Homo sapiens: one gene and its partner. The protein of the gene in region 2 purifies or fractionates together with the protein of the main gene of each other region. This does not show direct contact. Each region holds a gene or a part of one and is shown on either strand. Other genes may lie near its edges.

What was found.
Region 1: the proteins of RBM5 (region 2) and MARF1 purify together in Homo sapiens (affinity purification with mass spectrometry; one large-scale study listed by BioGRID and IntAct). This does not show direct contact.

Annotation. Positions count from the first base shown.
Region 1 is NC_000016.10:15,601,383-15,605,197, forward strand, and holds part of MARF1 (meiosis regulator and mRNA stability factor 1), read right to left. Parts: intron 3,017-3,815; coding exon 2,786-3,016; intron 822-2,785; coding exon 609-821; intron 1-608.
Region 2 is NC_000003.12:50,105,714-50,109,528, reverse strand, and holds part of RBM5 (RNA-binding protein 5), read right to left. Parts: intron 2,763-3,815; coding exon 2,665-2,762; intron 2,048-2,664; coding exon 1,960-2,047; intron 1,460-1,959; coding exon 1,382-1,459; intron 1,298-1,381; coding exon 1,225-1,297; intron 1-1,224. UniProt on the Homo sapiens protein: Component of the spliceosome A complex. Binds to ssRNA containing the consensus sequence 5'-AGGUAA-3'. Regulates alternative splicing of a number of mRNAs.

The DNA of each region.
Region 1 (3,815 bases), on a different chromosome or scaffold from region 2:
TGGACAGCACCACTGGGGTGCTTTTCAAATGCAAACCTGGGCTCCAGCTCTCTCCAACACAGTCCTCCCTCCTTACCTGGAGGAGCCACGCCCTCCCTAACCGAGCTCTCAGCTCCCTCTTAGCCTCTCGACACTCCATGCCACTTGTCACAACCCTGCATCTGCTCATGTCATCATCCCCTTTGCCCAGAATGCTCTCTCCCCTCCTTGTCACGTGCTTCCCTCAGGCACATCCTTGAAGGTTTTGCAACAGGCTCCCCAGGCTTGGGAAGTGGGCCCTGACACGGCCCTCCTCAGCGCGCCCACTGCCCTGACCGCCCTGACTAGTTGCCTGCTTGGGGGTCTTGACTCTCCCATTAACCAACACCTTTCTAGAGTTACAGCCTGAAACTTACTCACCTGGCATATAGGGATTTAATAAAGGTTTACAGAAAGAATCAAGGAGAAATGCTAAAATCATTTACTTTAGACCAACAGTATGTTTTGAAAGGATCAATTCAAAATGCCTGCCGTTCCATTATTCTGGCAGCATTTTATTTTTCTGTTCAGGACAGTTAGCCTGTGGCTGTTCAGAAGATGCTCTCCCGGAAGCTGAGAAAAATGCCCACCTGTGGAATTGCTCCCAAGAGCTCCTCCACGCTGCTGTGGCCGTAGGTCTTGGGCTGCAGAGTTTCTCCGACATACTTGGTATAGGCCATGGAAAACTCATGAAGGAAAATCTGCTGGTAGTGGTAAGTATGAAGTAAAGACCGCACATTCTTTGCAAACAAATACAGACTTGTGAGCTTCACACATTCTTCCATCTTATCATTAGTGAAAACCTGGTTAAAAAGAAAACGCAGCATTAGAAATATTAGTGACTGGCCCTGCCCCGTGGAAAGTGAAGGCCTCCCACTGAGGGAAAAGGCCCAGAGTTGAAGACGAAGACAAAGAAGAAAAAGAAGGCAACGAAGATGAGAAGATGAAGATGAAGAAGGAGACAAAGATGACGAAGAAGAAGGAGACGACAAAGATAAAGAAGACAACAACAAAGAAGATGAAGACAAAGACGACGAGACAAAAACGAAGATAAAGACGACAAAGATGAAGACAAAGAACAAGAAGACGAAGACAAGACGAAGACGACGATGAAGAAGACGAAGACGACGATAAAGAAGACGAAGACGACGAATTGGACAAAGACAAAGATGAAGAAGATGAAGATGACAAAAAAGACAAAGAAGAAGAAAGGAGGAGGAGGAAGGAAAGAAGGAAGAGGAGAAAGAAAAGGAGGAGGGATATATTCAAGGATTTCCTCCAAGAGAAGGCTATAGCCTCCAGCAAACTTCAGTTCTATTTGCAAGTCGAAGGCTGCAGCGGTCTGAAGAGACAGTGTGTGAGTAGGGAAGAAATCGGGGGAGGCAAACTGTGTTGGCAAATCACGGTACACACAGTGAACACTGGGGCCATTAAACTGCACCTCCAAACCAGTTTTCCAAGAAACACTGTGATAAGAGGATGACACTAGCATTCTTTAAAAACACATCAAAAGCAACAAGAAACAAACACAAAACCCTTGTGTATGCAGGGTAAGGAAGCAGATTTCTTTACCACAAACCTTTTCAAAGTGTTTAACATGCTATGGAATCGCCAAGAGAAAGGATATTCCCAATCTTAGCTGGACAGGGAAAGTCCTTTGTCCTGAAATATGCATTAACACCTGTCCAGAACTGGTGTTCTTAGGATAGATATTAACAGAGTTTAGAAAATGCTGGATGTATATCCTTTCATTATTTAATGATGTGTCCCACAGTTAGATGATAATGGCATATCATTCTTTTAAATTGCTGGAGCTCATTTGTTAATATCTTATTTAGGATCATTTTAAGGGACTATCTTATGTTTTTGGTATTAAATTTATTTTGGCTTCGTAAAAATAAATGGTAAGCTTTCCTTTTTTCTTTTTCAGCAGCCTAGAACAGTATTTTTTTTCTTGGGGATGGGTTCTTGCTATGTTGCCCAGGCTGGCCTCAAACTCCTGGGCTCAAGTGATTCTCTAGCCTCAGCCTTCTTAGTAGCTGGGATTATAGACGTGTACCACCTTGCCGGGCCCCAGAATGGTTTTTTAAAAGGTAGATTTATCTGTTCTTTTAGGGTTGGTTGAAATTCAATTGTTATCTCACTTGGTCCTGATGCCTTTTTCACTGGTATATTTCAGTGATCTTTTATAGTCTCTTTTATGGTAATTGGTCTAATTTTTAACTTCTTGAGTGAATTTTGGTAACTTATTTTTTCCAGGATTTCATTTATTTACTCTAGGTTTTTATATCTGTCGCCCGAGAATTGCATGCAGTATTCTCTTAAGATTCTCTCAATCTTGGAGCGCCATTCTTGAAAGGCTGCCTGGGGGACTGGCTGGCCAACCTTCCTTTCTGCCCTCACCTTACTCATCTCTCTCTTCAAGCCACCACATAAACCATCTCATTCAGAAAGATAAAACAGTAGCGAAATCCATCCTGGAATGGGACAAACACACCCCAGAGCCAGGATCAGGAGACCAGGCTTTCATCCTAGAACGGGACAAACACACCCCAGTGCCAGGATGAGGAGACCAGGCTTTCACTGGCTTCTGCCACCCATTTAGGCAGGGCTGCTTCACTGCCTGAGGTCTCGGCGTGTTCATCCATGAAATGGTCTCTCGGGTCCCTTCCAGCTCTACACACTCTAATCTAGACCATCAGGTAATCCGGAAATGCCCAATCGATAGTTTTCAATGATAGTTCTAAAGAGCCATTAACGTGCCTACCTCAACCAAGTATGGCAGGCTCTTCAGCAGTTCGGTCAAGGTCATGAATCCATATTCACAGGGGTTAAGGGGAGTGTTGTGGGTACTTTCGTAATGTCTCTTGAGCTCCTCAACAGAAAGATGGGTGGTTCCTTCCCAAGACATCAACAATACCAGCAACTGGGCAGTGAGAGATCGCAGAGACTTTCGGTTGATCAGCTGAATCTGTCTGCCAGATTCTATATCGGCAACCTGGGGAAAACGAGAATTCACACTTTTCAGAGCTCAAGAGAGACACCCTAGGTTATACCCAACTCAGCTCACTTCATTTTGGTTAATGAGACCAACAGATGAAAAATCTCTAATTTTTTTCTCTTACACTGAAATAAAGCAAGTGGGTTTGTTTTTAGCGTCTTTGGGACACCAGACCAACATGGAAGCAGAAACTGTCCTCCCCCTGCCGGTCCATAACTGAAAACTCTCAACAAGATAATAATGGGGGAGGAAATTGCATCATTCTCTTTATTTTTCATTCATTCTTTCCAAACCCCACTATAAGAAGGACACAGACTGGCCAGCTGATGGCCAGTGGTCCAAGCTTGTGAAGTGTGGGTTGCTGTGCTCGAAGGGGGGTAGGGATGGGGAGGCTAGACTCTAAGCAACACTCACATGGCTTCTGTGCAGACCCGACTTGCCCATATGCGTCCCCAGGGCGGGCTGGGGAGGTGAGAGAGGGCCTACTCTGATTACAAGGCAAGCTGCATTTTTCTAGTCTGCTATTACTCACCACAAAGCTGGTATTTTCATCTGACTAGTAACTGTCCACTCCTCAATTATTTCAGATTCTCAAGGAGATAAAGGGTTTAAGCGGTTAAATGCGCTGAGAGGGAAACCTTACAAAAAAGACAGAGATTGTCACTTGGGGACCAAACACCATGTGAAGAAACACGCATCTGGTGACTGAGCCAGCAGGCTGTGGGTGGCGAGGGTGAGGCTGTGGCGTGAGCCTTTCCTGGCACAAAAACAGGCAGAGCTTTGGCACACACACGGC
Region 2 (3,815 bases):
AATCTAGCCTTCTTCTGTCATTGTATATGTCAGTTCTTCATAAGCTAACTTCCACTAAGTACCCTGGAATCTGTGACATTTTCATTTTCTTATAATTCTACTAGATGTGATATACAAAGTTAAGGATTCTGTATCATGGCTAAGAAAAAGAGAAGAGGCCGGGTGCAGTGGCTCAGGCCTGTAATCCCAGCACTTTGGAAGGAAAAGGCGAGCCGATCACGAGGTCAGGAGATTGAGACCATCCTGGCTAACACGGTGAAACCCCGTCTCTACTAAAAATACAAAAAATTAGCCGGGAGTGGTGGCAGGCACCTGTAGTTCCAGCTACTTGTGAGGCTAAGGCAGGAGAATGGCGTGAACCTGGGAGGCAGAGCTCACAGTGAACCGAGATAACGCCACCGCACTCCAGCCTGGGCAACAGAGCGAGACTCCGTCTCAAAAAAAAAAGAAGAGAAAAGGAAGAGAAGAAAGGATCTATATTTGCTCTGGGGTTGAGAAAGATTTAACTCACAAGGCTTTTTAAAGCCTGAAACAAAAATTAAAGCCAAGGCTTCTTAGAGTAGCTCTTCTGATTGATGTCTGAGCACCAGTCTCCAGGGCCACATCCTCTCTGCTCACCTGAACTTACGTGGGCACTCACGACTCCAAACACAGAGAGGGGAAATACAGAGTTGAATTCCAAGAATTAAACTCATCACAACATGGTCTCTAAGACCTTGTATTAACTCCTGGTGTACACAAATAACCGTATTCTTCCCCAGAACCTTGGGTACATGATGACAGCCCTGAATATGCCCCCTACATTCTTTTTTTTTTCTTTCTGAGACAGAATCTCACTCTGTCGCCCAGGCTGGAGTGCAGTGGCGCAATCTCAGCTCACTGCAATCTCTGCCGCTCGGGTTCAAGCAATTCTCCTGCCTCAGCCTCCTGAGTAGCTGGGATTACAGGCGCCTGCCACCGCACCTGGCTAATTTCTGTAGTTTTAGCTGAGATGGGGTTTCACCATGTTGGCCAGGCTGGTCTTGAACTCCTGACCTCGTGATCCACCTGCCTTGGCCTCCCAAAGTGCTGGGATTACAGGCGTGAGCCACCGTGCCCGGCCATGCCCCCTACAATCTTACAGAGAAATGGACTTGTAGCTTTTGGTCCAGTTAGGACATTTAATCATATTTCTTCAACTGTAAGTGCTTAAACAAAAGGTAAAAGGGAGATGAAGTTTACTACCTGATGCAGATGATGCATCAGATTCCAATCCTCCAGCTTGTTGTTGATAAAACTGCTGATAATCCTGTGAATACTGAAGAAAAGTCCACCATTAAAGCTGCTATTCTCAGACACACTCTGCAAGACTATAAGGTGGATGCTGCTAAAATCTACCTACCTGAGCATATTGGGCATAGCCATCTTGACCTGGTTGCAGATAACTGTAGTCAACACTGCCTCCTTCACCACTTTGAGACTACAAAACATCAAAATGAGACAAAGACAAACTTAGTAGGCATTAAGGAAAAAAATTCAGAAGTCCCTAAAAATGAGCTCATGATGCTGGGCGCTGTGGCTCACGGCTGTAATCCCAGCACTTTGGGAGGCTGACGTGGGTGGATCACCTGAGGTCAGGAGTTCAAGACCAGCCTGGCCAACGTGGTGAAATCCCATCTCTACTAAAATACAAAAATTAGCCAGGCGTGGTGGCAGGTACCTGTAATCCCAGCTACTCAAGAGGCTGAGACAGAAGAACCACTTGAACCTGGAAGGTGGAGCTTGCAGTGAGCCAAGATTGCACCATTGCACTCCAGCCCGGGTGACGAGAGTGATACTCTGTCTCAAAAAAAAAAAAAAAAAAAAAAAAAAAAAAAGAAAAGAAAAGAGCTCATACTGCGAGTACCACAGGAGAGGTCACGTCTGTGAATCTGGGCACCACCACCACACTACCTTGAGCAAAAAGATCCTCGATCTTACCTGGGTGGATGACCACTGAGCAGCAGCAATAGCCGTACTAGCTACAGAGAAAGCGCTGACGCGGTTACCATCTGAGAGGACCAAGTCTCTGAAACCACAAAGATCCAATCATGTGATTCTATCACAGTATTCCCACAATTAGTGCCCCTATACCACCAACTGATTCACTCCACCCTTTGTCAGTTCTCAAATGCCAGCAAGGCCACATTTCACAGGGGGAGGGCTCTTCATGGGGAAATTCCTCAGTAAGCAAGTGGCCCTGTAGTATCATTGTTCTACCTTGTAACCTGCCATCTAACGAAGAGTTTTTTGAATGTGCAATGATACTAAAAAAAGGGAAATTTACCGTGTTAGAGTTAAGCACTATATACATGAAATTATTAGCACGCTGTTCTGGAAGGAATGGGTTATTTCTGGATGGGTTAGCACTATACTGCTGCAGTTTGCAAAGCATGTGTTCTCAACCCATCTGCCATACTTGCCTTTCTCCTGATCTGAAACCATTTCAGGCAACTTCATCAACTGGTTACACAGGACAGTAGGGAATAATCACTAAAAGAAGACAAACGTGTCCCTCCTGGCCTTGGCAATCAGGGAGGATCACAGTGTCTCAACATACTTGGGGCACAGGCTTGGCGTTCAGTTAGCACACTGTACAAATGTGCATATGCAGTAGTTTGAAATAAGGACAATGAAGCCACTCACTTTCTGGCACTTTTTGCAAAATCAACCCCAATAGTTTTGCCATCAATTTTCAAAGGAGGATGGAGACTCTGTAATATCTGAAGCAGCTGAGAAGCATCCTGAAGGAGAATGTGAAGGAAAAAAACGTGTAATGCAATTAAAAATCTCTCCCTACCATCCACCCCATTCAAAGAAGTAGTTTTCTATTAAAAAATAAAAGGCAATTAATTCCTTATTGTGTTTGCAGATATGAAACCTCAAGAAAGGAATATCTCTCTTTCCTCTAAGATGTGAAGGTTTCCAGTATTACCAAAAGAGCAAATGCTAAACCAATCTAAAACAAAGTACATCTAGCACTTGGGAGGCTGAGATGAGCGGATCACTTGAAGTCAAGAGTTCGAGACCAGCCTGGCCAACATGGCAAAAACCTGTCTCTACTAAAAATACAAAAATTAGCTGGGCGTGGCTGGGCGCGGTGGCTCACGCCTGTAATCCCAGCACTTTGGGAGGCAGAGGTGGTGATCAAGACCATCCTGGCTAACACAGTGAAACCCCATCTCTACTAAAAATACAAAAAATTAGCTGAGCATGGTGGTGAGCGCCTGTAATCCCAGATACTCAGGAGGCTGAGGCGGGAGAATGGCGTGAACCCTGGGGAGATGGAGCTTGCAGTGAGCCGAGATCACACCACTGCACTCCATCCAGCCTGGGCGACAGAACGAGACTCCCTCTCAAAAAAAAAAAAAAAAAAAAAAAAAAAAAAAAAATAGCTGGGCGTGGTGGCGGGCACCTGTAATCCCAGCTACTCAGGAGGCTGAGGCAGGAGAATCGCTTGAACCCTGGAGGCAGAGGTTGCAGTGATCCGAGATGGTGCCACCGCACTCCAGCCTGGGCGACAGTGAGACTCCATCCCAAAAAAGAACAACAACAACAAAAAACAAAGTACCAAGGACTAAACTGTGGCTCAAAAAATTCTGCCAGTTGCCTATAGGTATACACATTATTTTTACTACTTACTGAAGTCATCAGTCCTGTAATTTAGCAGTGCAAAAACTGTCATTAGGGAGCCTTGCATCTTGGGCTTTAGGAGCCTCAGACAGTTTCAAAACTGGATGAACCACATTTGCCTCTTAAAGCTGTTTCTTTTAAAAAGGAAAGAATCGATGAGAACC